Regions from separate parts of the Homo sapiens genome. Here region 1 is linked to region 2. The links come from fine-mapping of genetic effects on gene expression. Tissue or cell type: whole blood. Region 2 holds a variant in brackets; the other region holds the start of a gene. All regions are shown on one strand. Distances are from middle to middle.

What was found. PIP is the estimated chance that this variant, and not a neighbour inherited with it, causes the effect. A credible set is the group of variants that fine-mapping cannot tell apart.
Region 1: MMP25-AS1 starts here. The variant in region 2 is the best candidate, but not a certain one, in a credible set for the expression of MMP25-AS1 in whole blood (INTERVAL, PIP 0.75).

The regions. Positions count from the first base shown.
Region 1 is chr16:3,058,228-3,060,727 of GRCh38, reverse strand. It overlaps MMP25-AS1 (MMP25 antisense RNA 1), which reads left to right and starts at 1,358. Exons shown (of 5, transcript NR_123723.1): 1 at 1,358-1,732; 2 at 2,026-2,188. MMP25 (matrix metallopeptidase 25) reads right to left here. Exons shown (of 10, transcript NM_022468.5): 8 at 2,395-2,500; 9 at 2,059-2,316; 10 at 2-1,901. The coding sequence ends at 1,630. LOC124900372 (sialidase-like) reads left to right here and starts at 1,358. Exons shown (of 3, transcript XM_047435000.1): 1 at 1,358-1,732. RefSeq lists an enhancer at 215-1,120 and silencers at 1,159-1,628, 2,089-2,138, 2,279-2,408, 2,439-2,488.
Region 2 is chr16:2,985,662-2,988,410 of GRCh38, reverse strand. It overlaps GREP1 (glycine rich extracellular protein 1), which reads right to left and starts at 149. Exons shown (of 29, transcript NM_001396456.1): 1 at 71-149. The coding sequence starts at 134. RefSeq lists enhancers at 1-5, 6-957. The variant C/T (reference allele first, on the strand shown) is at 1,108.

The sequences.
Region 1 (2,500 bases), 72 kb before region 2:
CTTTTTGTACATTCGTTTTTATTGTCCTGAGTGGGATGAATAAGTTTCTAATATACAAATTTCCCCCTCCTCATACATGGAAAAGAAACTGACAGAGGCCCAAATCGTTTCCTGGCAGCCCAGAATTCCCAGGTAACTGACCAAAGTCTCCTGCCTTCTGTCCTCATGCTGATCTGTTTGTATGAGCAACTGGGGCAACCCCTCGCATGGTTGCTGGGACAGCCGCCCACAGCCTCAGCTCCAGGAAGCACTAGGGGGTCACTGAGGCTGGACAGCAACTTAGGAAGTGGCCCCTAAGTGACTCTACCCATGGGGTTCAGGCCATCGGTGTGGCCTGAACATATTGGTCCTGGGGTGGAGGAACACTGCAGAGCCACAGAAATGCCACGAAACAGCCAGCTACTGCCCCCCACAATCCCCGCGACTAGTTAAAATGCAGATTCCTGACCCCACCCTGAGTGAGGATTCAGGGTGAGTGTGGGATCTGCAAACTTAAATTTCCCAGTGATTCTGATGTGGGATAGTCTAGAAGAATAGTTCCAGAGGCAATCATTTAGATCCTAAAACTGTGGGGAGTGGGGACAGGGTGAACGAGGTGCCCCCAGGTTCCACCCACCCCTCACTCTAGAGCTAAGGCCTCCCAGGAGGGAGTGCTGAGGAGGCAATGACCAGGCCTGAGCCAGGGTTCGGTCCCTGTCTTTCCACCAGCGTTGAGTTGATGGGAGTCAAGCTGTTCTCTCCAGGGTGCAAGCAGGGAAGGGGTTCTTGGGGATAGAAGGGTTCCCCATTGAATGGAAGGCAGTTCTGGGCCCAGGGAGGTGCCCAAGTTGGGTGGCCTGGGGAGGAGGAGGTGGGTGGCGGGGGAGCAACGGAAAAGGTTAACAGCCTGGAGAGCAAGGGTCGTCCCTCCAGCCACTGATTCCACCACCCAGGACGTGGCGCATGGGTCCTCAGGGGTGATATCTGGGCTGGTTCCGGGTCTGGGTCCCAGGTCCCCACCAGTGTGGCAGTGACTGTAGGGGGGCCTTGTGGGAGCAGAACGGGGTGAGAAACTGCGGGTGGGAGAGGGGCAAGGCACAGCTTCGCAGTCAGGCCTGTCCTCTAACGACCCAGGAATGCCAGACGCAGTGGCCAGGCGGGGCGGGGCTGCGGAGAGTCCCAGGACTGCGCTCCGAGAAAAGCTGGCTCTTCCTGGAAAAGGAAGGTCCTGCGGGGCCAGCGCGCGACCGGGGCTGCCGTCCCTCCGGGTGAGGCCGCGGGCCCGCCCCTTGTCCTCCCCGCCCCTCCCCGGGCTCGGGAGGCGGGGTCCGACCGCCCCCTGGCGGCAGCCGGGAGGGAACGACGGGGGCGACGACCGACGCATGGTCCCAGCGCGCGTGCGCCCCTGAAGGCGGGTTCCGGTGGCAGCGCCGGGGTCTCAGACCCTGAGGAGACTGAGCCCAGCGCCAGGCGACCGGTCCCCGCCGCCGCCGCCCCTGCGCGGGAGATCCCCCCTGCTTAGTCCGCGCCCGAGCCCCCGTCCGTGGGAACAGACAAGGGGCCTCCGCAGCGCCTCACAACCCCCGACCAGGTCCAGCGGCGGGGGACTCGGCCGTGGAGGGCGCTGTTCGGTCTGGATGGCTCCCCCCATCAGCGGGAGGCTACACCCCCCACCAGCAGGGGCAAGAGGAGCAGCGGGATGGGAGCAGGCCAACGTCCTGCGGCCTGGTTGAGCTCGCACTGACAATCGCAGGTTTCGGACACGGGGGTCGCTTTGGGGGGCCTGGGGGCGCGGGGACCAGAGCTCGGGGCGGGGCAGTCCAGCCAGTTGGGCCCCATGGGCTGGGGGGCGTCCGGCTCGGTCTTGATGCTGTTCTTGGGGAAGCGCCAGTAGTGGGCGCCCTTGAAGAAGTAGGTGTCACCTGGAGGAGCAGAGCTTGAGTCCCGGTCCCTCCCCGCCCCGCCGCTCCCTGATGCCCAAGGACCCCCATCCCCGCAGGGTGGCCTCCATGTCCCCATTCCCCACATCCCTCTCCCCACCCCCAGGCCCAGTAACCCGCAGGTCACCGCGCTCCCCACCTGCGTTGCTGACGGTGACATCGTCAGGGGAGGGGGGCGCGCCTTCCCAGAGGCTCAGGTCGCGAGGGTAGCCGGGGTCCGGGCGCGCCGCCGCCTCGTCGTAGCGCCAGTACTGCCGGCCGCGGACCAGGTAGGTCTTCCCGTTCTGTGGCCACGAGAACACGGCGTCCACCTCCTCTCCCGGGGGCAGCCCCAGCTCCGTGAGCGGCCGCGCCCCGCCCTCCAGCTGCCGGTCCTGGAACACCCAGAACTGGGGCCCTGCAGGGTGGAGGCCGGGAGGTCAGGGGTGGGCTCCCCGCGCCGGCCCCAGCGCGCCCCGCCGCCGGCCCCACTCACCGCTAAAGAGGAGGATTCGGCCGTCTCGGTGCCGAGCATAGGCGGCCTGCACCACCCTCACCTGGGCGGGCAGCCCCTCCCAGAAGCGGTGCAGCCGTGCGGGTCG
Region 2 (2,749 bases):
CCACTTGGACCCCCAGCCCCAGTCACAGATGCCCATTCTCCAACCCCCAGCCCCAAGCTGCCCTCACCACCTTGCAGGCTCTCGGAAGTCAGGCAGAGAAGGAAAAGGGCTGCGGGGAAGGCCCAGGCGCCCATGACTCTAGGCAGAGTGGGAGGGCCCACGCCCTTTGGGCCTTTAAACACCCCTGGCTGGGTGGGGACCCTCGCCCAGGCCCCCCAGCTGTGAGAGGCAGAGGCTCTGCCTGCAGACCCTGGGGGGTCACCCCCACCTCCCCCTGTGGCAGGAGTCTAGCTCTGGCCCCTCATCCATCATGGGCGCTGACAGCAGGACAGGCCCCCTAGACTTCTCCGCCCCTGTCAGCGACTCAGGCCCTGGCGCCAGGCCCAGAGGGCTCAGATGTCCCCCCAGCAAGGGGCAGGCAGGCACCCTAGGCCCAGCCCAAACACAGCTGGGGAGAGGGCGGGAACCAGGGCTTTGGAGTGTTGCAGACAGCAGGGGTGGGGGTGACAGCATCTCAGACCCTGTCTGACAGGCGGGTGGTGTTCCCAACAAAAGCCAGGTGTCATCCCGTCTAGTCCTGAGACCACACAGACCCCACCAGGGGGCCCTTTGTCCTCATGGAGGCTCAGCCTGCCAGAGTGGGCCAGAGCCCCCAACTTCAGAGCCACCCCTTCCTCCTCCCTCCTCCTTCCATGAGGGGCAGGGACACAGGAGGACGGGCCAGCTGTGCCCAGCCTCTCTGAGAGTCCGCGGAGGCCTTCCAGCTCTGCCTCGTCTCCTGCCCCAGCAGTGACTCTAACTTTGGGTCACAGACTAGGGGAGCCACCACACAGTGTTGGGGGGCAGGACCGCAGGAGAGGCTGAGGAGAGGACGTGGGGGGCTGCGAGCAGCTCTCCATGCCTGGGGCTGGGTGGATGGACTTGGAGCCGGGGCCCTGTGCTGGGGGCCTGGCAGGGAGGCACTGGGCATGGGGGTCTGGACAACAGGCATCACGCCCCAATGAGCCTGCAGACCCCACCAGGCTGGCTGGGGACGGCAGTGACTCAACCCCTAGCCCCTGCACCCTGGTCCAGAAGGCCCCACACCCTGTCTGTCTGCTGGCCTGT[C/T]CCTGGCCCAGCCAGCCCCTCCTGGTACCTCTGGCTAAGGAGTCCAGCCTGCCAAGCCAGTCAGCCCAGCTAGGCTGGGGGTCTGCAGAAGGGCTATAATGAGGAAGGGGCAGCAGGGGCTTCTCCGAGAGAGGCTACTGAGCCCACACCTCTGCGGCCAGGTCCAGCCGCCAATAGACTACAGGGTTAATTACCACCAGGTACCCTCACTCATAGGCCAGCCCAGCACTGAGGTCCCTGTGCCCCCTCCCTCTCTGCCTCCCCTCTCACCCACATCGTAGGCTGTGCCCCACTGCTGCTCTGCCCACACATGAAGCCATCCCCAGGGCTCACACCCACAGGCACACCACGATGCCTGCGGTGCCCACCTCCCAACCACAGACCCACCTGTGCACGAGGACTGTCTGCTCACGGCAGGCCCCCTCAGCCCAGCGCCTCAGAACAGTGCCCTGAACCGCCCCCCCACCGTCCTGCCTGGCAGACAGCCATGAGTTGGGGTCCCCGAGGCTGGACCTTCATGGGCTGCTGACAGGGGCTCAGGGATGCTCCCTGGCCCCATCCATCCTATGAGTGCCCAGGGTAGCTGGGACGGTCCATTCAGACTCCTGGAGAGGGCTTTCCTGCCAGGCCACCTGCCCCGCCCATGGCAGCAGGCGCATGTCCCCCGTGTATTCACGGAGGGCAGCCGAGTAGCCCCGGGGCTAGCAGCTGGGTGCTGGATTCACACAGGGTGCAAACACCCACTCCATCTGGTTCGGGGCCTTCCCGAGTGTGTTCACTCTCCCCTAAAATGACAAGAAGAGCAACTCTGTGTTGGGGCTACTGGGAGGAACTGCTGCTTATCCTCGTTTGCAGATGGGGAAACAAAGGCAGGGGGAAGGGACTTGGCTCAGATTGTGCAACTCTGGAGCAGTGGGGCTGAGATCTGAACCCCAGCAGTCTGGCAGTCCCCACGTCTGCTGTCCCTGCTCTCAAGCACCTTACATGCTTACAGGCGGGCAGTAGGCCCAGTTATGCCAGATGGGACGAGGTGTCTGCTTCAGACCTGGGCCGGCTGAGAGCTCCTACACAGACACATGGCTTGCCCTGCAGGGCGCTGGGAAAGCGTAGCCCAAGAGGAGGCAGGCGGGAAACCAGGAGACGCCCTGTGGGAGGTAACGGATGGGCGCCTGCTTGGCCACTGCCAGAGGGAACACCAGTGCCCGCTACCACTGCCAGGCTGCCTGGTGCTGGCATGACCTTGGAAAATGCCAGCCAGCCCAGGGCCTCGGGCCAGCCTGACAGCCACTCAGGACCAGGCTGGACCCAGTCGGGTGTCCCAGCCCCTGCAATGCCGCCACTCCGACTCCCAGCACAGCCAGTCCTCTCTGCTCACCCCCAGACCCACCCAGGCAGGGCCTGCCTGACAGCACAGAGACTGTGTGTGGGCTGGGAGAGCCCCTGATGGAGTCTTGACCTGGGCTACCCTTTGCTCCCAGGCACCCTGGCCTGAGGGGACACAGCACAGCCTCGGAACAGAGCAGCAGCTATGAGGGGCTAGGGCTGAGGGCCAAGGGCAGGGTGAGAGCAGGGGTGTTGGAAGTGCTGGACCCAGGCCCAGGAAGTGCATTGCCTAAAATGGCAAGAGACTCCCTGCCAGCTG